Regions from separate parts of the Homo sapiens genome. Here region 1 is linked to region 2. Evidence: fine-mapped expression QTL. A gene starts in region 2. The other region holds a variant in brackets. All regions are shown on one strand. Distances are from middle to middle.

The links. PIP is the estimated chance that this variant, and not a neighbour inherited with it, causes the effect.
Region 1: its variant is fine-mapped to the expression of TSPOAP1 in unexposed skin (GTEx, PIP above 0.99). The same link has a PIP of 0.9 or more in atrial appendage and skeletal muscle.

What each region holds. Positions count from the first base shown.
Region 1 is chr17:58,342,561-58,355,751 of GRCh38, forward strand. SUPT4H1 (SPT4 homolog, DSIF elongation factor subunit) reads right to left here and starts at 9,641. Exons shown (of 5, transcript NM_003168.3): 1 at 9,507-9,641; 2 at 8,842-8,948; 3 at 4,969-5,024; 4 at 4,628-4,681; 5 at 2,618-3,753. The coding sequence starts at 9,575. The coding sequence ends at 3,686. It overlaps RNF43 (ring finger protein 43), which reads right to left. Exons shown (of 10, transcript NM_017763.6): 10 at 11,116-12,426. The coding sequence ends at 12,383. TSPOAP1-AS1 (TSPOAP1, SUPT4H1 and RNF43 antisense RNA 1) reads left to right here. Exons shown (of 5, transcript NR_038410.1): 4 at 9,184-9,354; 5 at 9,439-11,167. RefSeq lists enhancers at 1,658-2,187, 10,422-10,957 and silencers at 9,215-9,324, 9,605-10,034. The variant G/A (reference allele first, on the strand shown) is at 9,843.
Region 2 is chr17:58,321,135-58,337,098 of GRCh38, forward strand. It overlaps TSPOAP1 (TSPO associated protein 1), which reads right to left and starts at 7,661. Exons shown (of 32, transcript NM_004758.4): 1 at 6,454-7,661; 2 at 5,549-5,656; 3 at 5,159-5,287; 4 at 4,400-4,579; 5 at 3,677-3,868; 6 at 2,334-2,411; 7 at 2,164-2,247; 8 at 1,816-1,905; 9 at 1,520-1,642; 10 at 1,174-1,278. The coding sequence starts at 6,786. It overlaps TSPOAP1-AS1 (TSPOAP1, SUPT4H1 and RNF43 antisense RNA 1), which reads left to right and starts at 4,316. Exons shown (of 5, transcript NR_038410.1): 1 at 4,316-4,594; 2 at 6,916-6,987. MIR142HG (MIR142 host genes) reads right to left here and starts at 11,386. Exons shown (of 1, transcript NR_186557.1): 1 at 9,754-11,386. MIR142 (microRNA 142) reads right to left here and starts at 10,184; the gene lies at 10,098-10,184. It also overlaps MIR4736. RefSeq lists silencers at 3,584-3,653, 3,694-3,783, 6,044-6,103, 6,714-6,823, 11,394-11,703 and 1 more and enhancers at 3,921-4,469, 6,504-6,663, 7,534-7,603, 8,134-8,303, 8,404-8,483 and 11 more.

The sequences.
Region 1 (13,191 bases), 20 kb after region 2:
TAGAGTGGTTGGTGGGCTCAACGTGTAGGGACAATGTGTTGTAATAACTTCACTCAGAAGAAAGCTAATGCCTCACACTGGTTCTGTTGAACACTTATGGAGGGAAAAAAACTTGCTGTGTTTGTGGACAACTATGTCACAAACAGTTAGTAGCCCTAAACTTAGTGTGGACATTATATTTCTTGAGCTGAGGCTCCACTACTTGATTATGGCTAAAACACTTTTAACTCTTTTCTTCCCCACCCCGAGACAGAGTCTTGCTCTGTCACCCTAGCTGGAGTGCAGTGGCACGATCTTGGCTCACTGCAACCTCCGCCTCCCGAGTTCAAGCACTTCTCCTGCCTCAGCCTCCCATGTAGCTGGGATTACAGGCGCCCGCCACCACACCTGGCTAACTTTTTATATTTTTAGTAGAGACGGGGTTTCACCATCTTGGCCAGGCTGGTCTTGAACTCCTGATCTCATGATCCACCCACCTTGGCCTCCCAAAGTGCTGGGATTACAGGCATAAGCCACCGTGCCCAGTCAAGACACTTTAACTCTTTGAGTCTCAGTCTCCTCATCACCAAATAAGGATGTTAACTAGTTCCAGGGTTTCTGTGAGAATCAAATGAGATACTGGATATGAAAGCCCTTTGTCAACTGTATTTGGGTTTGTTTTGTTGTTTTCTGAGACACGGTCTCACTCTGTCCCCCAGGCTGGAGTGCAGTGGCGCCATCACGGCTCACTGCAGCCTCAAACTCCCAGACTCAAGGGATCCTCCCACCTCAGCCTCCCAAGTAGCTGGGACTACAGGTGTACACCACCATGCCTAGCTAATTTTTTGTAGAGATGGGCTTTTGCCATGTTGCCCAGGTTGGTCTTACACTCCTGGGTTCAAAGTGATCTGCCCGCTTTGACCTCCCCAAGGTGCTGGGATTAGAGGCATGAGCCACAGCACCCAGCACCTTTGTCAACTGTAAAAATATTTACATGAAAGGCTTTACTGATACTAAACATGAACCAGACTTCCAGACAAAGTTATTATTAGTCTGTTCTTAAACATGACCTACCTGCCTCTTTCATAGAGACCAGATGTCAGGGAGGGGACCTGAGGATCAAGTAGCAGGCTGCAGACAGACTAGGAGTAACAAGGCAGAAGCCACACCAAGAGCAAAGCCTCAGTTCCCAACCCTGGTGAAACTGCTCCCCTCCAAGACCAGACCATCCTGACCCTTGCTCTATCAGCTACCAGTCCTTTCTTGAGCTGGAGGCTGCATTATCAATGCACTGCCACTGAGCTCCTCAGTGTTCTGGGAGACCCTAATTCCACAGTATGTGGCAGGGAGGAAGCAGGGAATGAGGCAAGGGCAGGCAAGGGGAAGGCAGCCTGGCTACTATTCCTAGTCTCTGTCTGACTTGCATCTGTCCTTGTTGAGCTAGGGAGGAGGCTTGCTCTTCAGGAGAGAAGCCAAACTACTGAGCAAGACAAGGAGAGATCTTAAGATGCTATGCACTCAGAACTTCGGCAGCCAGGACGGGACTGAAACTCTGACAGACACAATGGGCCAATGGGGCAGGACATAGCTCTCATGGCTGCCCTCATAGCCATGGAAAGCAGGGCAGCAGTACCAGGACCGCCCACTCCCAGGGAGCTGTGAACCAAGTCCTTGTCTTAGTTTCTTTGGGTTCCCAGTAGAGGATGGGACTCCAGCACCTTTCTGCCTGTCTGGGTTGCTGAGTGGCACCACCTGCATGTTCAAGTACCAGAGAAAGCAAGAAAGCTAATTCAGCAGCAGCTCCCGGGGAGAGCCCACTTGGCACAGTCTGTAGAGTCCAGGAAGGAAAACAGGCCACCCTTCCCCCACAAGCATCAATGCCTATGCTATGTCTTTTGCTTCCTGTGAGACTGTCAGTTAGGGCCCAGTTCAGTGTAGGGCTGAGGCAGCCTGAATGTGGTTATTTGTGCAAGCTCCTCTTGCCTCCCCTCCCCACAACTGTTTCCATTCTCACCAAGCAGCCACGTCCGGGTCAGACACCCAGGACAGCAGCTGGGGCTTTCCAAGGGACTTTTTGAGAAGCTAGTGAAAGTTGGGTGTTGGCTGCACAGCCTGGGCACTTGCTGAAACGCACTTCTTCCATCCAGGACGTAAGCTCTAGCCTGGCAGGGTTGCTTTCAGGTTGAAATTGAACAGAAATCACCACCCACGGAGCTTTCTGTTTGCTGGGCTGGGGAAATCCTTGAGAAACTCAGTTTGGAGTTGGGGTTATCTGACCATTCCCTCAGAGCTTGAAGGCACCAGAGAAAATGGTTTTGGTTTGAAGACCATAGTGGACATGAGCAGCCCGGCCAGTCCCAGTTTCCCTCCCATAGGCCTATGTGAGGACAAGGAAGGGGAGTAGACAAACTAATCAGAGTCAGGTCGCATCTCTCCTCCTTCCCACACTCTCCAGGCCACAGGTAACAAGCAAAATCAACTCAAGAGCAACACCAGGTGGCTGAGACACAAAGCCCTAGCACAGGCAGCTCTGCCCTAGCACAGCACAGCTCACCCTGCAGTTGTGGTTCTCAGCATTTCCCCTACTATTTTGGCTGATTGTGCACATATTCTATGTATTGAAAAATGGCCCAAAAAGGAGAGCAAAAGTATTTCACCTTTATAATACTTATATAATTTTCACATAGCTTCGTTTCTACAATCACAACAATCCTGAGGTAAACAGGCAGGGTGCAATCATTCTCTTTTTAGAGGGAGAACAAGGAACTTAGGGAAATCAAAATGGGGATACGAACAGGATTTCTGTGGAAATTTAAATGAGAATTTGTGGTAAATTTTTTTATCCTAAAACAACTCACCTTGGCCGAAAAATGGGATGTTACCCAAGGTCCCCTACTAGGCCGGAGGAGAAAAGGACCTACCTCCTACAGGGGCACAAACAAGGGAGACTAGGACTCAATGGTCGCCCAAGGCCCAAGGGTCTCCAGTGAGTGCTTGAGACTGGCCTAAGGTATAGGAAGAGCCGTGAAGAGAAGAAAATAGACAAGCAGGGGAGGGAAGAATTATTAAACATGGTCAAGGAGCACTCTACAAAGCCTCAGGATTTCTTCAAGGGATACTGCTGTGCCAGGTCTCGAGGGCAGAAGGATACAAGTGTGAGACACCAGGGCCACCAAGTTGATGGGGTTACTGAGCCTCTGGATCAGCACCCTCCGATAGGAAGCAAGGAAGCACACTACAAAGGCTGCAATCCCAGAGGCTGAGACAGTCAAGAGGGAGTAGAAGGGCCTCTGCTGCTCTGGGAAGGTTCTTATAGGGCAAATAAGCTATTACTGTGCCTAAGAGAATGGAAGAGGGAGGCAAGGCAGGTGTCATGGCCTTCAGAACTTTCTCGAGGTTCATATTTATTGACATTTGACCTAGAGTCCTTGGCATGGGGAAGGCACAGACCTGGGCCACGGGTAGGAAAATCAGCATCCTACTCTCTCCTCAATTCCATCTGTTAATCCACCAACCCAAATCCCTCCCACCCCACCTGTAGTCCAAAGAAGATAAAATGATAAAATGATGTGCTGCTCTCTCAACAGTCAGCTGAGTCTGAATTGGAGGGTAGGAAGTATTTGAAGTTCTGTTCATTTAGTTCCAGAACAAGAAATAAGCAGAGGCAGGAGGTGGAGAGCAAAGATGCTGGCAGCCTTGCATCTTGCTAGGTCTTTATAGCTGTGTCTCTGGATTTGTAGGCCACTCCTCGACTTTTCAGCTCCCGCACGATTCCTGAAGCAGGAAAAGAAACAGTTCTGTGAGGTAAGATTCAGAAGGGTAAGATAGGCCACTCAGCTGCCACCTTGAGGGGGGTACTATAAGCAAACTGGAGTTCCTAGACTACTTATCAATCGTCTGCTTGGCCAGGCACGGTGGCTCATGCCTGCAATCTCAGCACTTTGGGAGGTCAAGGTGGATCACTTGAGGTCAGGAGTTCAAGACTAGCCTGGGCTACAGAGCAAGGCCCCATCTCTACAAAAAAATTTTAAAAATTAGCCAGGTGTAGTGGCTTGCACCTGTAGTGCCAGCTATTTGGGAGGCTGAGGCGGGAGGATCCCTTGAATCCATGAGTTCAAGGCTGCAGTGAGCTCTGATAATGCCACTATACTTCAGCCTGGGTGACAGAGACTCTGTCTCAAAAAAAAAAAAAAAAAAAAAGGTCCTGCTTAGTTGACTCATTACTAGTGAAGACCCAGGCAGGTATTCGGTAAGAATGAGAAGAAAAAGAGGGATACATGTAGTCATCAAAAGCAAAGGTTCTAAGCCAAGCACCTGTAGTCCCAGCTACTCAGGAGGCAGAGGTGGGAGGAGCACATGAGCCCAGGAGTTAGAGTCCAGCCTGGGCAACATAGTGAGACCTTGTCTCTAAAAAAAATAAAAAACAGAAACAGCAAAAATTCTGGAGCCAGAATGCCTGGATTCCAATCCTGGCTCCTCATTTACTACCTGGTGACCTCCAGCAAGTGATTTAACCTCTCTGTGCCTGGTTCCCCCCATCTGTAAAATGCTGAACCTCATAGAATGTGAGAATTGGCATTAATTCAGATAAAAAAACTTCCACAGAGCTTTACAGTAAATGAACATTGGCTGTTATGATTATTATTACCTTGGGGCAGGCGACCAGTGACTGACACCGCATATACACCTGGCTTAAAGTTACCTGAGAGAGAAGAAAAAAGATACAAGATTACAGTGAAGTTAGTTAAGACTCAAGATCAAATGGAAGCTTAAGCTAAAGAAGTGATGCAACTCCAAGAGAAGAGCTATTCCCTCTTTTGGCTACAAGTGTTAAATGACAAGGCACAGGACACTGCTTCCCTGTGTTTCCTACAACCCGATCTTTCCCACCCTGAGGTCACTCATCTTGCTGATTTGAGACTCCCTAATGGACCTGAGGAACAGTAACAACACTACAACTAAGCCAAAAGGAGACAGGCCAACACTTACTGACTCGCTGCCACTTGGAGACCCAGCTGTCCTCTGGACTCATCATCGCAATGATTCTAGGGAGGGAAAAGAAATGGAGAGTCAGCCTGAGCCTCCCTGGGCCTGAGCTCAATTCTGAGAGAGGAATCTAGGAAAAAGCCAAGTACCGAGTCTCCACTGGAAAGCTGGCAAAACTGCCTTCTGATGTTGGGATGAGGCTGACTCAAAGCTAGGACTGACAAAAGTTCTTCATTCTTATGTCCTTGGCCGGCCAGCCACAGGTCAGTTTCCATCCCCAAAAGATTATCTCACTCAGCTCACAAACATCCTTAGCCTAACATTCCCTAGAAAATGAGACGGCTTTAGGACAAGGGGTCCAATAGTTACAACTAACACAACTACAAGGGGTCTAGGGCCTAGTGCAAAGAGGAGGGTGAGTGAAAACAACGGATCCTCCTACTAGAAAGGAGTTCAACTTGGCTAAACTTTTCCTCTTAATGACCTATACATATGGGGACCCCTCTAATGACCTATACATGTGGGGTTCCCTTCTCAGAACCTCATCAGTAAGCTGAGACTCAAAGGTTGAGATAATACATGAAAAACACCTAGCACAAAGACTAGCACAGAGTAGGTGCTAAATAAGCATTAGCTCTCCTCATTATCCTAATAGTCCTTCCCAGGTAGCTGTGATTCCAGAGGAATGGTAAGGCTATTCAAGGGCTAGAAGATGCTGCTTGAGCAAGATGGGTAAGCATTTTTGTCATTCAACGCATTCAATCAAATGCTTACTGACTGCCTATTGTGTGGGTGTAAGCACTGACATTTGTTGACTGCCTCAATATGCCTCCCCTCTTCTCTCAGTAACAATCTTGGATTCTTATTTGAGAAGATTCCCTTCCCATCCAAATCCTACATTCTCAGCCATGCGCTGTTAAGTGGAACCGACCCTACCTCCAGGGGTGACAAGCAGAACACTAGCCCCCAGCCCTGCAGCCTGATGGGAGATAGGCATGTATGCAGGCCATCCTCCTGACCACAAGTATATTCTTCTCTGTCCTTTGCAATCTATCTTTTTAGCCTTAGGGTCCCTACAGCCCAACCTTATGATTTAACCTAAACAGAATTCCCACTGTTCTCCAAAAACATCCTGGTTTTTCCCATCCTAAGCCTTTGCTCTAGTCACTCCCTTTATTTGGAATGTTCTCTCTCTCTCTCACCTCAACTTCCTCAAAAATCCCAAACTTCTTGCCTTAAGAGGAAAGTACTACCTCTTCCAATTCTGGTTGAGGTCATCTAGCCCTCTTCCGATCTTTAATTTGCCCACTCTTTAAGACCTAATATGCACTAGAATTATACAAATAATTCCTACAACCTAACAACAAAAAAACCAAACTGAAGTCAAAAATGAGCAAAGGCCTTGAATAGGCATTTCTCCAAAGATATACAAATGGCTATAAGCACCTAAGAGGCTCAACATCACCATTCATTGGGGGAAATGGGACACCAAAGTCACACCCATCAGGATGGCTATTATTAATAAATAATTAAGTGTTGGTGAGGATGGGGAGAAATTAGAACCTTTGGGCACTGTTGGTGGGAATGGAAAATGGTGCAGTTGCTAAACAGTATGACAGTTCCTCAAAAAATTAAACACTGAACTATCATATGATCTAGCAATTTCACTTGTGGATATACAGATGATCCCTGACTTACCTTAGTTCAACTTATGATTTTTCAAATTTATGATTTTGCAAAAGTGACATGCATTCAATAGAAATCGTTTTCAAATTTTAAATTTTGTTCTTTTCCAGGCTAGCAATTCAGTACAATATTCTGTCATGATGCTGCGCAGCAGCCATGAGCCACAGCTTCTGGTCAGCCACAGTAACATAAGCGTTCTGAGCACATTTGAAGTAGGCTAACTTATTATATTCAGTAGGTTGGGTGTGTTAAATGCACTTTTGGCTTATATTTTCAACTTATGATGGGCTTATTAGGTTGTAACTCCTCGGAAGTTGAGGTGCATCTGTACTGAAAATAATGAAAAGCAGGGACTTGAACACATATTTGTATACCAATGTTCACAGCAGTATTATTCACAAATAGCCAAAAGGGAGAAACAACCCAAGATATCATTGATGAATGAATGGGCAGCAGAACATGCTATACACATACAAGGGAATATTATTCAGCTCAAAAGAGGAGGGAAATTCTGTTGCATACTACAATATGAATGAACCTTGAAGACATTATGTTGGTGAAAGAAGCTAAAAAATGCTACTGAATGAGCCCATAGGTACCTAAGGGTGCCTAAGGTGGCCAAATTCATAGAGACAAAGCATGGTGGTTGTCAGGGACAGGAGGGAGGAGAGAACGAGGAGCTAGTGTTTAATGGGTACAGATGAAAAAAGTTCTGGAGATGGATGGTGGTGACGGTTGCACAACAGTGAGTATGCACTAATGCCACTGAATTGTGTATTTAGAAATGGCGACCGGGCACAGTGGCTCATGCCTGTAATCCCAGCACTTTGTGAGGCTGAGACGGGAGGATCACCTGAGGTCAGGAGTTCGAGACCAGCCTGGCCAGCATGGCAAAACCCTGTCTCTACTAAAAAAAGTACAAAAATTAGCTGGGCGTGGTGGTGGGCGCCTGTAATCCCAGCTACTCAGGAGGCTGAGGTAGGAGGCGGAGGTTGCAGTGAGCTGAGATCGTGCCATTGCAGCCGGGCGCTGTGGCTCACTCCTGTAATCCCAGCACTTTGGGAGGCCGAGGCGGGTGGATCACGAGGTCAGCAGTTCAAGACCAGTCTGACCAACATGGTGAAACCCCGTCTCTACTAAAAATACAAAAATTAGCTGGGTATGGTGGCAGGTGCCTGTAATCCCAGCTACTCAGGAGGCTGAGGCAGAGAACTGCTTGAACCTGGGAGGCGGAGGTTGCAGTGAGCCGAGATTGCGCCACTGCACTCCAGCCTGGGCGACAGAGCGAGACTCCATCTCAAATAAATAAATAAATAAATAAATAAGTAAAATGGCTAAAATGGGCCGGGCATGGTGACTCATACTTGTAATCCCAGCACTATGAGAGGCCGAGGTGGGCAGATCACCTGAGGTCAGGAGTTTGAGACCAGCCTGGCCAACATGGTGAAACCCCGTCTCTACTAAAGATATAAAAATTAGCTGGGAGTGGTGGTGGGTGCCTGTAATCCCAGCTACTCAAGAGGCTGAGGCAGGAGAATTGCTTGAACCCAGGAGGCAGAGGTTGCAGTGAGCCGAGACTGCACCATTGCACTCCAGCATGAGTGGCAAGGGCGAAAAGTCTGTCCAAAAAAAAAAAAAAAAAAAAAGCAACAGCTTTTGGGCAATGATCTACCATTACTACACCTCCCTTCCCTTCATTTTCAAAAAAAATTTTCATGCATTTAACAAACATTATTAAGATTACATTCTTTCTTCTCATGTTAAGTCTTTGAAATCTGGGGTATATTTTATACTTAAAAGCATGTCTTAATTTGGACTAGACACATTTCAAGTGCTCAGTAGCTACACGTGGATAGTGGTCACTGTATTAGATGCATAGCACTAGTATGTCCCAAAATAACTGTTGAGGCTGGACACAGTGGCTTACACCTATAATCCCAGCACTCTGGGAGGTTGAAGTCAGAGGATCATTCCACGCTGCAGTGAGCTATGATCATGCCACTGCACTCCAGCCTGAGCCACAGAGCAAAACCCTGATTCAAAAAAAAAAAAAAAAAAAAAAACCCACACAAAATAACCCCCAAAAACGAATGGCTGGGCCCAACTAGGATTAACACTTGCCCTGCATTTACTTCTCTGGGTGCAGGTTGGGTAATGCAGAAGTGAATGATGGAAACTGAAGCGGCTTACCCATCAAAGGAAGAGCTAGTGCAGTCATATACCATCTCTCGGTTACCCTTCATTTGTAGATATGCATCACAATTGTCACAACCATCATATTCAAACTGGTCTATAGTCTGGGAGTGAAAGAAAAATAAAGGAAAAGGAGAGATAAGCATGAACAAGACCAAGAGAAAAAGTAGCTTTCTCAATACTTCGACCTGCTCAATTTCTTGTTTCCCTATGTTGACTGTGTATCCTAAGGTTCCCCACCTACTACTCTCAAAGCTTCATTCCTAAGTCCCACCCTCCCACTCCTTCCTCTCTCGTTCCCAATTCCGTTTTATCTATTCCTTTCTCTAGTCTACTCAGGGTCAGGCATCCTTTCCGACTACTCACTCAGCAGCGGATCCCCACCCGCCTCTGACTCCCAGTGTCTTTCGGCTCCAACGTAAGTTCACCGAACGTCTAAGAGCTGAGGATTCAAAGGCATGTAAGACCGCCCCTGCCCTCAGCTGCAAGACCTGTCCGCGATCCTACGAGGTAAACGATGGCCTCCTTCGGCTTCTCACTCCCCCTGCCACCTCTGAGTTCTGAGACTTAACTTTTCTCTTTACTGTCCCACAGCCCCATTCCGCCCTCTTTCCCCGACCTTGGTCCCCCATGGGCCCTACAACCAGGTCCCCGACTGACACCTTGACCAGCGAACACAGCAAACAGGCCCGCAGATGCCGCAGGTCCTTCGGCACCGTCTCCAGGGCCATCTTCGCCGATGGGAAGAACAACAGGGAGATAGACGACCACAGCCTGTGCACCCGCAGGAAGTAAATAGCTCGTTACCCAGAATGCCCACCACTTCCGGCGCTTAGACTTCCTCTTCCGGTGTGGGCGGACGCCAGCTCCGCCCCTACCCCCGCCAGAGGAGATGGTTTCTCCCGCCAGCAGGCGGGGAGGCTGGGCGGCCGGCCGCCACCTGGGCCGGAGCGCGTCGCAGCCACCTGAGCCCGCCGAGGGCGCGGCGGAGGCTGTGT[G/A]GGGTAGTCAGCGGGCCCCCGGGGCGGGGGGGCGGCTGCGCTTGCGCGGGAGTGTGTCGGGCTGAGCCGCAGCGCCGAGACGCGGGCTGTTTGATCTGGGCTGGTGGCCCTGGGCGTCGGTCCTGTTCCCCGATGGTAACCCGAAGTTTGTTTTTTTTTGTTTTGTCTCCCCGTTTTAGAAGCATTGGGGGCAGTGAATCCACTGTCTCCCTCTGGATTGTCTCTGCAGAGACCGAGAAGAAATCCAGGGACAGCCCCACCCCTCCTTCCTAACTGCGAGAGCGCTATAGGGTTTCCACTTGCTTCCCACAGGAATGCTGGCCTGGGAGCTACGGCGGAAAAAAATGCGTATTTATCTTTTAAAACTCCGTCTGTTTGCTCGTTCCGGCTGATAATTTATACTTTGCGCAGTTCTTAGCGCTTAGACACGGTTCCTTTACTAAAGACCATTTGTAGGAGATTAGGTGTCCTTTTTTTCCCTTTCATTTCACCGTCTAGGAAGCGAAATGCCTTGTTCTATAGGCACTAAACCACCACCCCTACCAAACCTTTCTCGGGGAAGCAGAAGGGGAACTTGTGCCTTGTGAGGAAGCGACAAAGGCCCCTTCTGGCCCTGGAGACTTCACGCCAATGGAGCACCAGCTCTCTGTCCTCGCAATAGCCCGAGTGCAGGCAGAACGCAGTCATTTGTGTTTATCTGAGAGGAGCTTTGGGATATAAATAGTTTCAGGCCCCGCTGCGCTGTCATTCCAGCCCAGCCTCCTGATTGAGCTGCTTCCGGGCGGGCTTTCTTCTTGTTGGCGGTCCCATGCTGTGTTCAGATGGGCTCTGTGACAGGTTTGGATGTTTTCTATCACTGAATAAAACTTTCCACTTTGGAACATATTTTCTACACTCTATTATCTCATGTAAGTCCTGCAACAACTATTAAGTAGGCCCATTTTATGGACTGAAAAAGCGAGGCACAGAGTATTTGCCCAAGGTCTGAGTCACTGAAGTATGATAATGTGTGAAGTGAACAGTATAATAATAATGACTGAAGCACAGTAAGAATCCAGTCATGCTTTCTCCTTCCCTGATCTCACTAAGCCACACTTTTAGGGGCTTACAAACCAGTTCTTATTGCCAAGCCCTCTACTCTACCCTATCCTTTCATGAATCGGAGCCTAGCCTCTGATAACATAAATAATTTACTTCTCTTGATGTAGAAAGAGATGACGTTGTTACCCTGAGTGACAGTCACGACAGAACAAAACCACAAGACCAGACCACATTTGTGGATAAATATATTAGCAAATAAATATATTTCTTAACATAGTGCCTGATTCAAGCGTCTGTCTGGTTCAGATATAAATACCCATGTGGGTACCTAGGTGCTAGTCTCCCCACTAACTGAGGGAAAAAGGTTCCCAGGTGGGGTCCTCTGCCCACTTTGCCACCACATTCACATTCCAAATGGGATAATGCCTGAGGGGCCAAGAGTGGTCAGGCTGCCCTGGGGTGAATGTCACCCTGATGAGGCCCATCAGCTCTTGTCCACTCAGTGAGGCCAGACTTGTGCTCTAATCCACTCTCCTGTGGGTCCCTGGCCTGTATGGCTTATACTGGGGAGCTGGGCCTCTGGGCTGTCCAAACCCAAGGGTCACACTTTGCTTTTCCTTTGTTGTCCCCATTTTCCATCCTTGCTCTAAGACAAAACTTTTCCCAGAGAAGAACTCTTTGTTGTCCCCGCTCAGCTGTAATTCTGCCTTTTCTACCTTCATTCCATCCTTCCTCTGCCCAGATAAAGTCCAGCAGAAATTCCTCCTTTCTACCTCTCTGGGACTCTGAGACAGGAAATCTTCAAGGAGGAGTTTTTCCCTCCCCACTATTCTTATTCTCAACCCCCAGAGGAACCAAGGCTGCTGTACCCACCTCAGGGACAGAACTCCACACTATAGTGGGAAAGCTTCAGGGACCCCTCCTTTTAGTGCTCAGGGCTCACCTATGCTACTGGTCCTTTTGGCAAAAAAGGAAAATGATAGAGCCAGGGTTGCCCCTGATGTAGCAGCCTTACTGTGGAGGGGCCAAAGCTGGTGTTCAGAGCTCACCCAAGGAGGGAGGTGATAAGGTGTCATGCGTTCTGCTGAACCCACTGGCTGGTATGAACATGAGGCTTGGGGTGAGGGAAACCAAGTAGGGGTTGGAGAAGGAGCAGCACCTTTGTAACACCTGGCTACCCATAGCTAGCTTTCTGCCCTCAAAAACTCAGCCTTCAAGGGATCCAGCCCACACACGCCACAGGCAGCAGCTGGTTGCCTGGCTGGACATGGATTTGCTGCACTGCAGATGTTTTCTGCAGACAAGGTCTGGAGCTGGAGCAGGAAACGGCACCCTCTCACCCTCCACCATCACCAGTCCTCTTCCAGTGCTTCTAGGAAGTACGGCAAAAAGAATGGTGTTTGCTGTGGTCCTTTCCTTTCCCAGGAGCAGGACTCTGTGCCAGGTAGGGCCCAAACACATCTGGAGCACACTCTTGGTTGGAGCTAGGCCTGAACATCTCACACAGCCTGTTCACACAGCTCCTCGAGTTCCTCCTCTGAGCCTGTATTTAGAGAGCGGGGAGGAAAGAGGTCATTGAGGGTCAGGCCAGGGACCTGCTTCTCTCGCCTGCAGCAGAGTGTGGCTGAGAGGGGACCACAGGGAGGGAGAAGCAGAGACTGTCTGGAAAGGGTGGTTAGATTGAAAGCTAAGGGGGCCCCAGTTGGGACACAGGGGAGAGAAAAACAAATCTAAAGAAATATATATAGCAACCAGTGTGTTACCAATACTTACTATTCATTTATTCACCCAATAAATATTAAGGATTCGTTGTGAATTTGGTCTGCTACCACGTGCCAAATAGAAGACCAAAAAGAATAAGCAGGGACCTGGTAACCTTTTTGGAGAGAAAGTATGAAAACAAATGGCCATTACGCCAGTGGGACAGGACAGGAGTCACGAGAGATGCATTAAGGAAGGAGAGAGACCAGGTCCAAGTGCAGCAATCAGGAAAAGCTTCCTGGAAGTGGGGATAAATGAGCTGATTCTGTAGGAATAGGTAAGAATTAGATTTATGGGAATAGAGAAGGCAGGAGAATATTCTGGGCTACAGGAACTACAAGAATTGTTTACCCAGTTTGGCTAAAGCATGGGCCTGGGGAAGGGAGGGAAGAGAATAGAAAATAAGGTTGAGAAGGAAGATGGGGGCTGGCTGGTGCAGGAACCTTTGAGGCCAAAGCAGGTTGGATTTTTCCTCTCTGTGGACAAACAGAACATTTGAAGATTTCTGGACAGTTTAGTGTAAGGCAGATGACGCTGGCAGCAATAG
Region 2 (15,964 bases):
CCCAAATGGAACTCAGCACTCGGGATGACCTACCTCTCAGATCTGCTGCCCCTTCATCCTTCACCTCACGGAGTATGAAGAGCCCCACCCTCCACCAAGGTTTATACAGCAAATGGCTGTCAGAGAAGGGATTCAACTGGAATCCCACGGGGATCCTTGTCAATTCTTTTTTTTTTTTTTTGAGATGGAGTCTCGCTCTGTCGCCCAGGCTGGAGTGCAATGGTACGATCTCAGCTCACTGCAAGCTCTGCCTCCCGGGTTCAAACAATTCTCCTGCCTCAGCCTCCTGAGTAGCTGGGACTACAGGGGCCCGCCACCATGTCAGGTTAATTTTTGTATTTTTGGTAGAGACGGGGATTCACCATATTGGCCAGGCTGGCCTCGAACTCCTGACCTCAACTGATCCACCCACCTTGGCCTCCCAAAGTGCTGGGATGACAGGCATGAGCCACCATGCCCGGCCAGAACCTTGTCAGTTCTATCTCTAAAACATAACTCAAACCCAGGCACTTGTCTCCCGTTCCACTGCATGCATCTCTGTCCAGACAGCCACCATCTCCCTCCCAGGCCACCGCCCAGGCCCTGCTCCACGCCTGCTCCCACAGTCCACCCTCCATAATACCAGCCATGTGATCCTGTAAAATTATGACTCAGATCATGTCACTCCCCCACTTAGGATCTTTCAGGAGCTTCTATCTACTCACAGAGCAAAATACCCAAACTCTTCCCATGGCCGTTAAGGCCCGACAGGATCGGGTTCTTGTCTACTCCCACCACGCTGCCCATCCCTTGCTGTATTCTAGCCACATTGGTCTCAGGCTTCTTCAGCTCTTCCCTGCCACAGAGCATGTGCATGTCTACACCTCCTGGCTGGCAAGGTCAATTGTCACCTCCTCAGGGAGGCCTTCCCTGATGACCTCTAAAGTGGCTCCTCACCCCATCCCAGTCACTTTGTCACATCACCCTGTTCTTCTCCACCACTGTGCTCATCAGTGTCTGAAATCAGCTCACTCCTGGATGCTAATTTGCTGACTGCTCAGGGACCTGGTCTTTGTTCCCCACAGTCTCCCCGACGCCTAGCACAGTGCCGGGCACACAGTAAATGCTTGTGGAATGAGTGAGTGGCAAAGCTGGTGTCCAGCAGCCTGCCAGCTTCCCTCACTGCCGCCCCACCTGCTGCAGTCTCCGGACCTCCTCCTGCTTCTCCCGTAGGCTGAGCCGAGCCTGTTCATGCTCCACCTCCAGCTGCTGCCGCCGCTGGGCCACCTCCCGCATGTGCTGAAACACAAGATCTGAGTCAAGGCCAGAGCCCCTACTTGGCCATTTCTAGAGAAGATCTAAGATGAGGAAGCCTCAAACACCATTTGCTCCAGATTCCTCTATTACAAAGGAAACTGAGCCTGGAGCAGCTCCAGGCCCAGGCCTCAGAGCTAGTGCCCCTCACTAAGAATATTCTGCTGTCCCACTTGCTCCCCATGCCAGGGCCCAGCACCCTCTCCCACCTGCACCATCTCCTCACCTTCAGCACTTGCTCCAGGCTCTCCAGCTTGCTCTGCAGGCCCTGGCTCTTGCGAAGGGCTGAGTCCCTCTCCTGTGTCACCCCCAGGAGCTGGCCCCTCAGCTCCGCATTCTCCCACTCCACCTGGCGAGGGGGCAGTGACAGGGAGTTGGGTGGGTGAGCCTTGACCCACCAGCACCCTCACAGGGGGAACAGTACCCTACCCCTGCTCAGGGGTGGAGGAGAAAGCCCCTTGGCTGGGGACCGGGGCAGTGGTGGGAGCACAGGTCTCCACAGCACCTGGGCGGAAGTGGTACCTGCTCCTTCTCTGTGGCTCTCCCACTGAGCCGGGAGTTCTCCTCCACCAGGCGGGCATTCTCATTCTGCGCTTGTCTCAGCTGCAGTTCCTGAGCGGGCAGAGGAGCTCTCAGGAGGGAGCCCAGCACCCACATTCCCCCTCTCCCCACACAGAGGACCCTGCCCTCCTCCCAGGCAAGGCCTTCCTCCCCTGCTGGAACCTGCACCAGCCAGGAAAGGAAAGGAGCAGGAGGGAAAATGTGTTCTTGAGGGCAGCAGGGGTGGGAGCAGAGCTGAGAGGGAGCCCACCACCTGGCTGGCCGGGGTGAAGGGAGGAGCTGGCCTCTGGGTTGCCCTCAAGAGCTCACCAGCTCCTCACATCGCCTCTGCTTTTTCCGGGCTTCCTGCTCCAGGCTCTCGCATTTCTTCCGCTTCTTGCTGAGCTCCGATTCCTGAGGGGTCAGAACCAAGTGCTCCTCATGAGGGAAGGTACATCTGCCCACAGCAGGCTGCCTCCAGCCCTTGACCTAGGACTTACCAGCTGCTGCACCCTCTGCTCTTTCTCTGGCTCCCCTAGAATCACGGGTAGGTTGTCCGCATCCTCCTGGGGCGTGGCCTGGAAATGCCCAGGGGCAAGGGGCTGGCACCTGAGAACAGGGCCCCAGGGCAGCCTGCCCCAGCCCAGCCTGCCCAGAGCAGGTTCCCACCCCATCATTCAGCCAGCAAGAGATCCCTGCCTAGCAAGAGCAAAGAGGGGTACTGTCTGCCCACCCACCTCCCATTGTCTCCAGCTGATGTGTAAGTACAAAGGCTGCACCCCTGTGTCCTGGAGCCATAAGTGCTTTGAGATCCTGGGACCCACGTGTGCCCTGGGAGATGGGTCCTTTATCCAGGCCAAAGCTTTCCCTTTTTAGCTTCCAGCAGCAGCCCTGCTCTGCACTCAATAACTGTCCTGGGTGTCCTTCAGCGACTGGCAGAGAACTAGGAGGCTGCCTGGGCCCCCGGGGATGTGGTGTTCCCCAAGATAGGGGTTCTGTATCATCCAAATCTGGGCTTGGCCTAGAGCAGCGCAAGTCCAGCCAGACCCTTCTCCTGGCTTCCCCCAAGCCCACCCTACCACACCTTCCGATTATCCGTGCAAACTTTGGGGGAGGACAGGTCTTGATGGGAGGGTGCATCTCCCTTCCAGGGCCAGCCAGGGAGACAAAATCTGAGCAAGAAGCCTCCCCCCACCCGGAGGTCTTGGTCACTATCAGATCACTGCCTGGTCTCTCCTCCCAGCCCTCTTCCCAGAAGGAGGAGGACCTACTTGCTGCCTACCTAGGATGATGGCGAGAAGCCAGACCCTTAAGTTCTGGGGGTCCTAAGCGGGTCCCTGGCCCTCGAGACAGGGGCTGCCTAAGCCCCCCGCTCAGTGAGGGTTGCCTGTACCTGGAGCCGGGGCGGACGCACCGCCGCCCCCGGGTAGCTGGGGCCAGGCCTGGCCAGCCAGGCGGGCGCTGACGGGGGCGTCCCCGCTCTACGGCGGCGGCGGGAGGAGGCGGCGCGGGCTGGGCCCCGGGCGGCTGCCAGGACAACCAGGGATTTGCGGCCGGGCCGTACCACTGGCAGCGCGGCAGGGGCGGCCGGCCAGGCCCCGCTGGGCGCAGGCCTATGGAGGGCGGAACCCTGGAGCCCCCAGGGGAGGGCACGGCGCAGGTACGAGCACGGGAGGCTTGGAGGTGGACCCTGCCCAGGACGGGAAAGCTCCCCAGCCCCTGGGAGTGCGCACACCACCACTGAGTCCTTGGGGTTCTGAGCACGGTGCAGGGGAGATCCCGGTGGTCGTTCCCCCCACCCATCTGCACGCACCCACACACCTGCCCTTGCGCCGGCGCTCACCTCTCCCGGGGCCCCGGGAGCAGGCGCCCCTGCTCTGGCCTGGAGAGCAGGGCCCGGGGGCCAGGACGGCGGGAGCGGGAGCGTCTCCCGCTGGTTGCGCAGCGCGATCTGCCTCTGCAGCCGCAGCACCTCCCGCTGGGACTCGCGCAGCAGCCGATCGAAGTCCCGCACGTGGAGCCACTGGGGACCCTCCTGAGGTTGGGGGACAGGGACAGGGAGGGGACTCAGGCCTAATCCTTGCCCGCCCCATGCCATCCCCTGCAGAGCCCTTCGCCTTGCTGGAGGGGCTCCGATGCGCGAGACTGTGCACACCCTCCCATGGGTACATGCCTGGTTACATGTGCATGCGTATGTGGCCACATGCTCCCGCGAGCCCCTATGCGGTCATTCTCAGTAACTTATTTCTTGGGTGCTCTCAATGTGCCCAGCACTGTGCTAAATACCTTGTGAACATCCCTTCACACAGGGGATGTGTGGATGCATACAGCCAGACCCACCGGCAAACAGCCTCAAGCCTGGAGCACAGAAATGCCCAGGTCTGGGACTCATGGCTCCACCCCCTTCTCCCCTCTCCCACCTGGGCCGTTGCCAGGGGAACCTACTCCCAGCAACCTCCACCCTCCCTTTCATTTGCGTCTCATTAACATCTTGTCTGCATCCCACAACAGGCAGATGGCCCTGTGCAGGGCTGAGCTGGAAGAGGTGACCAGGGCCTCCTCGCACCTTGCCCACCAGAGTGAGCCTGGCCTGCAGCTCCCTGCACTCCCGCTGCAAGGCAGCAATCTGCTTGTCCTTGGCCAGCAGTGCACTGGCTGTCTCACTGAGGTCCCGGGCTCGCTGGCGGGCTAGGGCCTTCCGACACAACTCCAAGCTGGTCCCCGGCCGGGGCAAGGGGGCACTCACCTAGCCAGAGGAGGGGTAAGGCCAATGGTCACCTGAGGGCTGGGGCACTTCTCCCACTCCTCATCTCCTCCCAAAGGAGGAGTTAGCATGAAAACCTAGGGGGGTAGCCACCTGCTTCCACCTTGACTGGGGTCTCAGAAAACCAGCAGCCTCACTCTACCCCATCCCAGCAGTTGGAAAGGATTAACTCTACATCTGAGTTTAGGATCAAAGGATGCTGCTAATTTGGGGCTGCCACTGTGATGGGTCTCATCCCTGCCCCCACTCCAGCTCTATACCCTGAGATGAGCTCAGCAGAAGGCTGCCGCCAGCACCAGCACGTGGTAATCCAGAATCCTGCTCCCTGCCTGCTCAGGAACCTCCCCATCCAGCTCTTCTCTGCCCCCTGCAGCTCCAGAAACCTTTGGCCTCCTTGCCTGGCCAGCCTCTGCCCTTCCTGCACCTTAGCCCCTAGATTCTTGCTTTCCTAGGTGCTGAGCTGAGACCGTGACTCCCAAGCTTCAGACAGCCCTCAGGCCCAGCCCTGGCTCCCCTCTTCCTTGGTCACCCAGCCTCCGCCCAGCAGCCTCCTTTCCTCACCACCCTCAGGTTCGTTTCCTGCAGCTTTCGGGCCCTCTCCTCCAGGCGCTTGGCAATGACCGCCAGCTCGGCGTTCTTCCTCTTCAGCCTCCGCACCTTCTCTTCTGTCTCAGGGAAGCTGCTCTTCCTCTGACAAGGGGTCAGGCAGAATTGGGGCATGTAGGGAGCACCCCACAGACCCAGTCCTAACAGCCCAAGTCTTGGGCTAGAGCCCTAGGCTCACAGTGGGGTCCTTGGCAACTCTAGGCAGGGGTTCACCCTCTCTGGGTCTCAGGATTTTGTCACCTCCATTGAGCCCCCACTTGGAAAGATGTTCATGGGGTGAGGAGGGCACTGAGGCAGAGGGCCTGGCTCCAGCCAGAACGCAGCACCCCAGTCTCCAAGCCTCACCAGCATCTGGTTTTCCTCCTTAAGGATGGCACAGCGCTGCCGCAGCTCCCCCAGGGCCCTCAGCAGCTCCAGATTGGGCCTGTCCCCAAAGCTCATATTCAGCTTGGCCTGGCATGGGAAAGGACCGAGGACAGCACCTCAGAAACCCACGTCACCCAGCCAGAGCCTTCCCTGTGGAAGCATCCACCATCCATGGTCCAAGGAGACATGGAGATGAAACGGTTTCCCCTATGTCCCAGGCCTTCAGAGAGGAGCAGAGGAGGCCTAGGAGAAGGAACTGTCCAGTCCTCCCTGTCCACATAGACACCCCCAAACCTGGCACCCTCCTGCTCCTCCCTGATCCTTCCCATTCCTACCCATCTTCTCCTCCAGGGACATGCGAGCTCGAGCTCCCACTCCCATCCCTCCAGACTCCCCTGCCCTCCCCCAAAGTCCTGTTCCTTCCCTCTTCTACAGGAGCCTGCTCACACCCACCCCAACCCTGCCTCAGCCCAGCACCAAGCCCCCTCCCCTCAATCTACTTCCTCTGCACTGATTCTCTGTGCACCTCCACACTCCCCCTGTATCCCCCAGCCCCTAAGGACAGACAGACTCATGGAAGAAGAGACACAGACAGACACACTGTCAGGAGGAGGCACAGAGAGGGACGGGGCAGCAGCAGGGCCAGATCTAGACAGACAGGCAAAGAGGGTCAGAAGGACAGACAAATGACGAAAGAAATGGAGCCCCTCAGATTTCTGCTCGATGAAGAGAGGACAGATAGCCACAGAGATGGACCCACAGACAGGCCAAGAGAGGACAGGTGGGCATTGGGGATGCATACCTCGCCTCACCTCCTGGCCAGGCTGGAGGACATGGTGAGAGACCCCCACCTTGCAGACCCCAGCCCTCCACAGATCCCTTACCTTCAGGAAAGCCTCCACTTCCTCATCCTCTGGCCTCTGGCAGGCGGGTCCAGAGCTGGATGCTTGCTGGCCCAGGCTGGGCAGACAAGCCTCTGCTCCTTCAGGGTCAGTTCCCCCCACGGGCCTGGAGCTCCCGTCTCCTTTGGGCTTGGAACTCTCCTCAGACCTCAGTTCTTGAAGCTGCAGAGCTGCCGGAGGAGTATCAGCGATGCTTGGGGCTGCACTGCTAGGTTCACCCCCTCGACCTGGAGTCCAGCTATGCCAGGTGGGCAGTGCCCATGGCTCCATGGCTCCAGGGTCCCCAGGCCGTGGGAGGGTTGTCAGTTGCTCCATGGTACTGCCAAGGGGCCCCAGAACCCGGGCCGGGGGACATCACCCAGCCAGGTGGGGGGACTGGCGAGGGTCATGCCAGGCCAGCCCCTCTCCCCTCTGAGCTCTTGCTTCACCGACGCTCCATCCAAGGTTGGCTGAGCTCTTCCCCACCCACAAAGGAGGCTGCAGAAGGCGCCAGGGCTGCTGGAGCTGGAGCCAGGGGTATGTGAGCTATGTTTGCTGGTAGCTGTGTGTGTGCGCGAGTATGTGGAGGAGCGAGGGTGTCCCTGTGGGGGTAGGGAGGATGTGCAGAGGCCACCGACAGCTGCGCCTGGGTGAGGGTGCGTGTGTGTGTCTCCAGGTCTGTCCGTGCAGGTCAATGCTGTCTCATGTGTTGGGAAGATGGGTGCCCCCACTTCTGTGTGTTGAGGGGGGTGGTGCTGTGTGTCACTGTCTGCCCATTTCAGAGTTGCCAGTTGTTTGTGTGTGTGTGTGTGGGTGTCTGTATTGCAGGGCTGTGGCAGTATGTGATGCTGTCCCTGGTTGTATCTGAGTGTGTCAGTGTCGTGCAGCTGTGTGCATCGGTGTCGTTGTGTGTCTGTCAGTGTCTGTGGGTCTGGCCGTCTGTCGCAACCCCTCAGCCCGGCCAGAGGCTTCAGGAGCTGCTGGGGGTGATCCCCAGTGGTCCGCTGTGGTCCTTTATCTCCGGCTCTGCTCTCTGCTGCTGCTCTTTCGCTTGCTGGGTGGCTGGGCTGGTCCTAAGGAGGCCTGGGTCGATGGGCTGCTTGCCTCATAGTCTCAGCCCCTGCTGGCCTCTGCTCTGGGGACTGCAGGGGTCCCTTACAGTCCAGGAGCCTCGAGATGGTGGGCTCCGAGGAGGGCTGAGCCTCAGAATTGGGTGGGGGGGTGAGCCGGGAAGAGCCAGCCCTCCCCTCCTCCTCCTCCTCCTCCCCTCCCACCCACCAATAGGAAGTCGGCTGCTGGTTTCCATGGTGATGGCGCTGGACTGGTGGGCTGAACCGGCTGACAGGGTCGGGGACAGAAGGAAGAGCAGGTTTCTCACGGCATGTCAGCCCAGGGCTCCCACATGTGGCCTCCCACCCTCATCTTCACACATTCTCACACCTTCCGGAGTACAGAGGCGAGTGGGGTGCAGATGGTCCTCCCTACATCGGGTGAGACTGATAGAGACAGAACGGGGGAGGGTATGACAGAGATCCAGCCACAGAGAAGGGCAGAACTAGAAAAGATGGGACTTGAGATGAAACAAAGAGAGAGACAGAAACCAAGAGAAAGAAACCGGGAAGACAAGCAAAGAGACAGGTAGAAATAGACGGAGAATTCCTTCTGCTTCCTCCTGGCAGATTGCACTTGGGGGGCAACCTGGCTGTCCCAGGCCACCAGGGAAGCCCACATGGCCTGTTGGGTTGGCTTTGTCCCGAATTGCCTGGAAGTTCATCTTCTGTCTAGCCTTAGATCTTGTTGCTAAATAATTTGGGGGACAAGGACGTGAGAATCCCCTCAGCCAGGAGTCAGTCTATATGCAGTGGCAGGGGTCTAGACAGAGTCCCCAGAGCCAGGGGTGTTGGGAGAAGCCCCGAGAGGCAGCCCCTCTCCACTCTGAACCCGGGACTCATTAGGCAAGCCAGTTTCAGCCAAGGTCGGGGGCCCTCGTGTGGCACCCCCACAGAATAGCAGCGGTGATACTGAACCCTAGAGCCCCTGACTGTGGGCTCCACCCAGGCAAGAGCCAATGGAACTGGAGGTAGGGGGTGCATGGGGAGGAGTGGACATCTTCACTTCCCTAAAGCAGTGTGTAGGTCAACACGCACGCCACTGCATGATGTGTTGCTGTTTAGGTCAGAGTATATATGCATGCCATTATGCGCATGCGTGTGTATAGTATGCATCTATAGAATAGACATTATCTATTTCTGTATATGTGAAGGGGCCATTGTGTGTATATATGTGTGTGCTATTATGTGTCTATGAGTCACATAATAAAACGTAACAAAAACACATTGGGTGTATCTGTATGTATGTTTCTGTGTCATTGCATCTATGTTTGTTTGCCACTGTGTCTATGTGTGTGCTGTTATGTGCATGGGAGGCTATCATTGCATGAGTTTATAAATTACAACACATCATGATATATATAGATATGGATGCTACTATATGGCACAATGTAGTAATTGATTACACAATATATGACATGCTCATATCGTCATGTAAATATGCATAATGACATGGTTTGATTTATATATATATATCACCATGTATCTATGTATTCTATATTTATCATGATATATGAACATGTCTCTATCTATGTATGTGTATGGAGCCACCGTGTTTATTATGCAAATGTCACTGTATGTGTGTGCTCTTCTATGTGTAAGACACGCCCTATGTTTCTATCATTGCATGTGTGTACTACTGAATATGTATGTGCCCTGGGTGTGTGTAATCCCTGTGTGTGTCATGCCAGTCATGTCACATGTGTCTGTGTGTGTGTTACTGGCACACTGAATGGGGCCTCTGTGTGTAAATGCATTTGCATCTCAGTGTGTGCTTTGTATATGAGTGTCTGTGCCCTTGTCTAAGATGCTGTGTATGTGCCACAGTGGATTTTGCCCAATTTTTATATGACCTAGGACCCCCTAGACTTTCTTAGATTAAAACTGGATGTAGGCAGCTTTCAGTTTGGGTATGTAGGGGGGCAGGATAGGGCCAGAGCTAGGGTAGAAGGTGAGAGGATGCCTTACATCCCTGCCCCTTTCTGCAGATGGCCCAGGCCCTTCTCTCCTCCGGCTGTGGCCTGGCCAGGCCCAGAGCCCTCTTCTGATCTCATAGGCAGGGCCAAACCCGTATCTTCTGGAGGAGCGACAGAGGTTCTCCCTCCCAGCCCTTCTGTGCGCCCATACTGTCCATGTGCCTGCCGCCCGCATTCAGCTCCCCACCCCAGCAACAGAGTCTCAGACAAAAGAGAAGCACAGTCCAGTCTTTATTAGCATTGGGTCCCTGGTCCCACCACCCATTCCCCTCCACGTACCATCCCTTCCCACCCCTTCCTCGTCCTTGACGCTGCGGCTGCATCAGGGTTCCACATGTCCAGCCCTCCCCGCCCCCAAAGACTGCAGGGCAGCAGAGGAGCTGCTGTGGCCTTTCCCCAGCTGTCCGGAACCAGGAAGGGCAGGAAAGCCATGGAGGCCTTTCAGGCATCTGGGCAGGGTAGGGAGGGGCCGTAAGGTGCTCACCTGTCACACGAGGTCCCCGAGCGCCGAGGAAGATGGTGGCGGGCAGCGGGCGGCAGCAGTGGCGTGATCTCCGAAGCCCACAGTACACTCATCCATAAAGTAGGAAACACTACACCCTCCAGTGCTGTTAGTAGTGCTTTCTACTTTATGGGTGACTGCACTGTCTGTCTGTCCGTCGGCGTGTACTCTTCAGGCTGCCCAGGCCTCCTGACTCCTGCTCCAAGAGCCCCCCAGCCCTCCTTGTGGCTTCCTAAGATCCCCCCAACCCTGCCAGGGCCCCCCGAGGGCCCGCCCTGGGCCTTGTGGGCGGTGACTCAGCATGGCGCCAGACTTGCCTCCTCTACCTCCCTCCCCCACTTCCTCTTCAGTTCCCTCTTCCCTTCCCCCTAAAGGCTCCACCCCATCCCCCCAGTTTCAGAGACACTCAGGTAGAGACTAGGGCCTCTGGAGGCCTCACCTTCAGTTCTGTGAACCCCTGGCTGGCCGCTTCCAGCCACGCTAGCCACCCTCCAGCGTCCAAATGAGGCAGCCACAGCTCCCCTGCCAAGGTCTTGGTCTCCAGTCCACCCCAACCGTGAGGTCCTGACTGCCCAGAGCCTCAGTCCCCACCCTTCAGCCTCCCCACCAGCCCAAGATCCTGACCCCCCAGGGCCTAAGTCCCCAGCCTCCCCAACAGCCCAGGGTCCTGACCCCCCAGGGCCTCAGGCCCTGGCCTCCCCACCAGCCCAAGGTCTTGAACACACCAGGGCCTCAATTCCCAGCCTCCCCACCAGCTCAAGGTCCTGACTCCCCCAGAGCCTCAGTCCCAGCCTCCATAGCAGCCCAAGGTCCTGACCCCCCAGGGCCTCAGTCCCCAGCCACTCCACCAGCCCCAAAGTCCTGACTCCCCAGAGCCTTGATTCTCGGCCTCCCCACCAGCCCAAAGTCCTGACTCCCTCACTGCCCTGCTGTTCCCCTGGCAGGAGCCCAAGGCTATCCCAACAAAAATGGTGGCCATGTTGGGCGGAGGAAGAGGCTGGCGCCCCTTGAGACACTGGTCCCACTTCTCAGCCTCTGCGTACCCTCTGCCATCCCCGCCTTACTCTCCAGCCCTCCTCCTTGGACACCTCTTTCCCCGCCTGGGGTCCCGGAGCCATTTTACCTTCCTTCACTAGAGAGGGTTTCAAGGCGCTTTGCCCTGAGCTTCCCGCATGGGGCTTGCACCCAAGCTCCTCGACACCCCCAACGCGCCTCCACCCAGACCAGCAGCCCAAGCCCCTAGAGGCCCCGAGCTGAGGAGCCCCAGTTGGGGCAGCAGTGAAGGTCCGGATCCTTACCTGAGGCTGCAGGGCGGAGGAGAGCTCGCCCTGTGCTCCAGGCTCCGAAGTGGGGTTCCCTTCAGGGAGGGCAGGGCTTATAACCCCGAGGCCACGTGGGCCAGATCTCAGGGCGCCCAACGGTCTCAGAGCGCGCCCCGCCCCCGCCCGCAGGGGATGAGCGCCCTCCCTCCCTCCCTCCCTGGGGAGGACAGACTGACAGGAAACAGAAGGGGGTGGGCCCGCGGGAGGGCTGGGGACCCTCTCTCATGCCCTGGGCAGGTGGCTTCCGGCCCCAGCTGCCCTTCCCCCCGTGGCACCAGCTCCAAGGGATGGCTCAAGAGCCTGGGACTGACTCAGGGCATTGAGGGTGACCCCAGAAGACCAGGGCTCCTCGACAGGGCCCTCGGTGAGTGCCCAAAACGGGGAGTCCAGAATTCCAGCACAAGAAAAGGACCTTCTCTCTGAGCCCCACCGCTGCTGACCTCAGCCCAGAAAACTCCCTTCCCTTCCCAACACTCAGGCCAGGCCCTGGCTCCTCTGCGTGTGCTCCCGAGGGCCATGGAGGTGCTGATGCATGAAGGGCGTCCATGGAGACTGTTGTCCTCAGCACCCCACAAAGCCACCCCTCCTGCAGCCTCAGCCTGCAGGGCACAGTGCGGGGGACACTCTCAGGCCCGGTGGACTGATGGCACTAGGCTAGGTGTTCACGCTCTCTTTGGGACCTGTGGGGACAAGAGGGCAGGGCAGAGCTGGGTGAGGATCAGGTCCTAAGGTGGGGCACAGGTGCTATGCGGAGAGAAGGGGGCTTGGAGGAGTGGCGGGAAAGAGGCTCGAGGGAAGGTTCTGGCGGCCACCGGATGTGGGCATGGGGCCCACCCACCTGCATGCCACCCCCGATTTCCCCATGGGGAAGGCAGGAAGCTGCCCAGCCCAGGGCCCCTGGCTGGGGGAGGGGAGTAGGGTGTGGGGGTGGGCAGGGGACAGCGTCGGCTGAGCCCAGCCCATACCATCTTCCCCCAGCGTTCTCCAAGCCTCTCCATGGGCTTGGCTCTGGAAGCAAGAGGAATGGGTTTGGGGAGGTAGGAGCGGTAGAGAGAAAACCACCCAGTGACTCCTTCCCAGAAGGCCATGGACCTCTTCTCTGGGTCCTCCGTTTAGGCCCACACAGACCTTAGGGAGCTGTCAGATTCAGGGCCTAGAAGAGGACTGGCATGGGGGCAGTGGGGAGGGAGATGGCCCCACATCCTTCCCTCCAGGAAGGGGGTCCTTCAACCTGGAAAGTTGCCCCATTCCCAGGTCCCTAAAATGGGACAGAGAAAGGGGGAATGGGGCCTTTCACCCCCTTGAGTCTAAAGAGAAAGTGGTGAGGAGGGTTGCCTTGCAGGGCCAGCTGGCCAGAAATGGGGCGATACTCCTTTAAGAGACCACCGCTGCCTCTGACCTGGGTGGAGGGGAAGTGGCTGCCCCAGGCGATAAGAGGATAAGAATATCAAAGTTGTGCAGTAACCTGGGTTCCTGGACCCCCATTCTTCAGGGCTCCTCCCCTGAGAGCATCTTACCTCCTACTCCTGCTTATGATGCCTCCATAGCCCTCACTTCAGAGGCGTCCTGTCCCCACAAAAGAGAGTCACAGAATGGGACCCAGGAGCCCGGCTTCTGGGCCCAGCTATGCCATAGACCCCTCAGCATGTGACCTGTGGCGAGTCAGAGCTGAGGTTCCAAGGGACACACATGGCTCCAACAGTCTCCAATCTAGCCCTTCTCCTGTCCTGAGCAGGGTGAGGTGTCCCTGCTGCCTGTTGTCTTGTGACAACAGAGGCTGATTTTCTCTGTACAACCTCAATGCCTAAAGACCACCAATAGTTTTTATTTTTATTTATCTATTTTCTTTTTTTGAGAAGAGAGCTTAGGGCCCAGCTTCTCTGTCAACGGAGCTTCTGGGGTCAGGGGGTTTCTGGATAGTCTAGGCCCTCTGCTGGTTCCCATCCCGAGGCTGGGGCTAAAGAAGGATGGAATGAGGACCTGGACTTTCCCCAGCCCAGCGATGACTCCCGACTCTGCTGGGCCTCAAACCAGAAGAAATGGTACAGGGCCAGAGACAAAATCAAGGACAGGGGAAGGGGCAGAGTCTAAAATAAGAATACAGAGACAATAAGAAACTTTGTGAGAATGGCTAGGATACATGGAATGGGCCGTCCACCTGTGACTGGAACAAGGCTGCTGGACTCGAAGCCTGACGTAGGCTGCCACCACCCAGATGCGTGGCCTGTGTGACTGACCAGCAGGTGCCTGAGGGAAGAGCAGCCAGTGCCTGCATGGAAACACACATGCAGACACAGCGGCCCAGAGAGCCCAAAACATTCAGACACAGACACGCTGTCGCCGACACACCCCGCAGTCCTGTACACACACCTAGAGGAGGCCTATCTACACTCCTGGACACACCTGCGTCCTCCCCAAGAGACACAGGGAGGGTCACCTGGGAATCTGGGGCCAGTGCTTGACAGGGTGACTGGAAGGAGCTGGGGGTGGATTCAGAACATAAGTACCTCTGTGAGAGTGGCCTGGCTCCCACTCCTGCCTCCAAAGCCACCTGTTGCCTGAGTTCCCCAGGATGAGAAAAACCAAACCCTTGATGTCTTTGTGGAGAGAGGAGTTCAAGTTGATACTTCAAACTCCGCCTCCTTGGCGGCCGATCCAGGTTCAAGCAGGCTGTCACTGGGCAACCTTGGCTCACTTGGACTTGCTGTCAAAAGTCCCCCACGGCCCTCCCTGGTTCTGACATTCAGATTCTTGCTCAGAGGAAGTAGGGGGCGGGGGCGGCAGGAACAAGGTGGGAACAGCCCTTCATCAGGATAGAGGGATCTGGGCTTGGAATCCTGGAGGGCTCCAGGCTCATGGTCCCTCACTGCCACCCCCACCTTACCGACCTGGGGGACAACCATCTCTGTGTGCCAAGCTGAGGCTGTGGGTAGGCAAAGGTGAGCCGGCAGAGAAAAGGACACAGGACCTGTCCTTGGGCACTCCCAGCCTGATAGGCAGTGTGTACGAGTGTGTGTGTCAGTGCAAGTGAGTGTCTTGTACCCAAAGCAGGGGCAGAGCTTCAGGTCTGATGGGGACACTTGGTTCCTACTTCTAGTGAGCACTGAATCTGAGGGTGAAGTAGACACACACATCTACATTTAACATAGTAACGGCAACAGGCACAAGGCCATCCCAGGTGGCAGTTGCCAGGGCCCAAGGGGCTGGGATGTTGGATGCTGTAGTAGCAACCTTAGAGTCACAGGAGTCCCATCAGAGAAGGCTTCCTGGAGAATGTGAGTACAGGTGGAAGAGGGTTTAGAAGGAGAGATTGGGCAAGGAGGAGAAACAGGGAGAAAATTGTCTTTTGAAGGCCTAATGCCTGTAAGGAGAGCAGGCCCAGAGGGTGGAAGAAATGACACAAGCTCATTGTCCGCACATGAAGGCAGAAAAGAAAACCAACCCTTCCCTGCCATCTGCATGGGCCTGGGGCCCTCACTCACAGGCAGGCAAGCAGCCAGTGGGAGATGGCAGCCCAGATAACCTGCCTTACAAAGAGCCAACAAGAGAGAAGCCACAGACTTAACCACTCACAAACAGGAAGTCCAGAAGGCAGAGCAGACCCGCCCTCCAGTAAGCTACAGTTGGGGACAGGCCTGGCCACAAAGGAGGGAAACTGAGCCCCTAGCATTGCAAAATGGGGCTAAAGCAAATTGGAGTCAATAGTCCCAAATGTTGAGACCCTTCCCCATCTCCCTGGAGGGGCAGCCAAGGGAAGCAGGTGCCAAGAGAGGCAAGTGCCTTAAGAACCTAAGACAGCCCATGTCCCCTACAGAGATCATCTCAGCACCTCAGAAGATCTGTCTCATCTCAGAGCCTTGGGAGCACAAGGAGTGCTAAAGGGCCTCCAGGCAAGGAGGGCGGGCAAACTGGCTGCCCCTCAGCCCCTGCCTGCTCGTACCAGACTCCCCTAGGTTTAATTTCATACTCTCCTGCTCTACTCTGTCTGGCAAGGGGCAGCTCCAATGCACAGTGGCCCACACTAGGAGGTCACTTCGCACTGGGGCAGGGTTCTGGCTCAGATCTCCTGGGATCATAAGACCCAAGGACTTTTAAGCAGCAAGGTTAGGCAGCAACTGGTCCCGAGTCAGGAAACAGAGCTGCAAGCCCAGAGAGAGGCAGAAGGCAGCCTGAGGTCACAAAACAAGTTAGGGCCAAGTTGGGTTCTTTCCACAACATCTGGGAAAAGGCAGGACGGGCTGGGTGGAAAGGGGGTGTGGGTGTGAGGAAGGCTACCCTGACCACTGCTGTGGGAGTGGCCGTGAAACCAGAAGCTTTCTCCTCTGGGATCTTCTGGGGACACAAGTGGAGAGATGAAAGCTCCCTCTGGACTCTCTCCACACACAGGTGCTGGGTTTAACTTGCATAGCTGCACCTGCTCCAGTTCCAACTGCTGCAAATAAATTGTGTGTGTATGTGTGGCGGGGACAGGGAGGGGGTCCAAGAGCTGGTTTTCTGCCTGGAACCCACTACAATCCCTCATCAGCCCCACTCCCTATCCCAACATCAGGATCACCAAGCAGAGGATAAAATTAAGTGTCAAGAAACTAGGGGTCTAATCCTCAC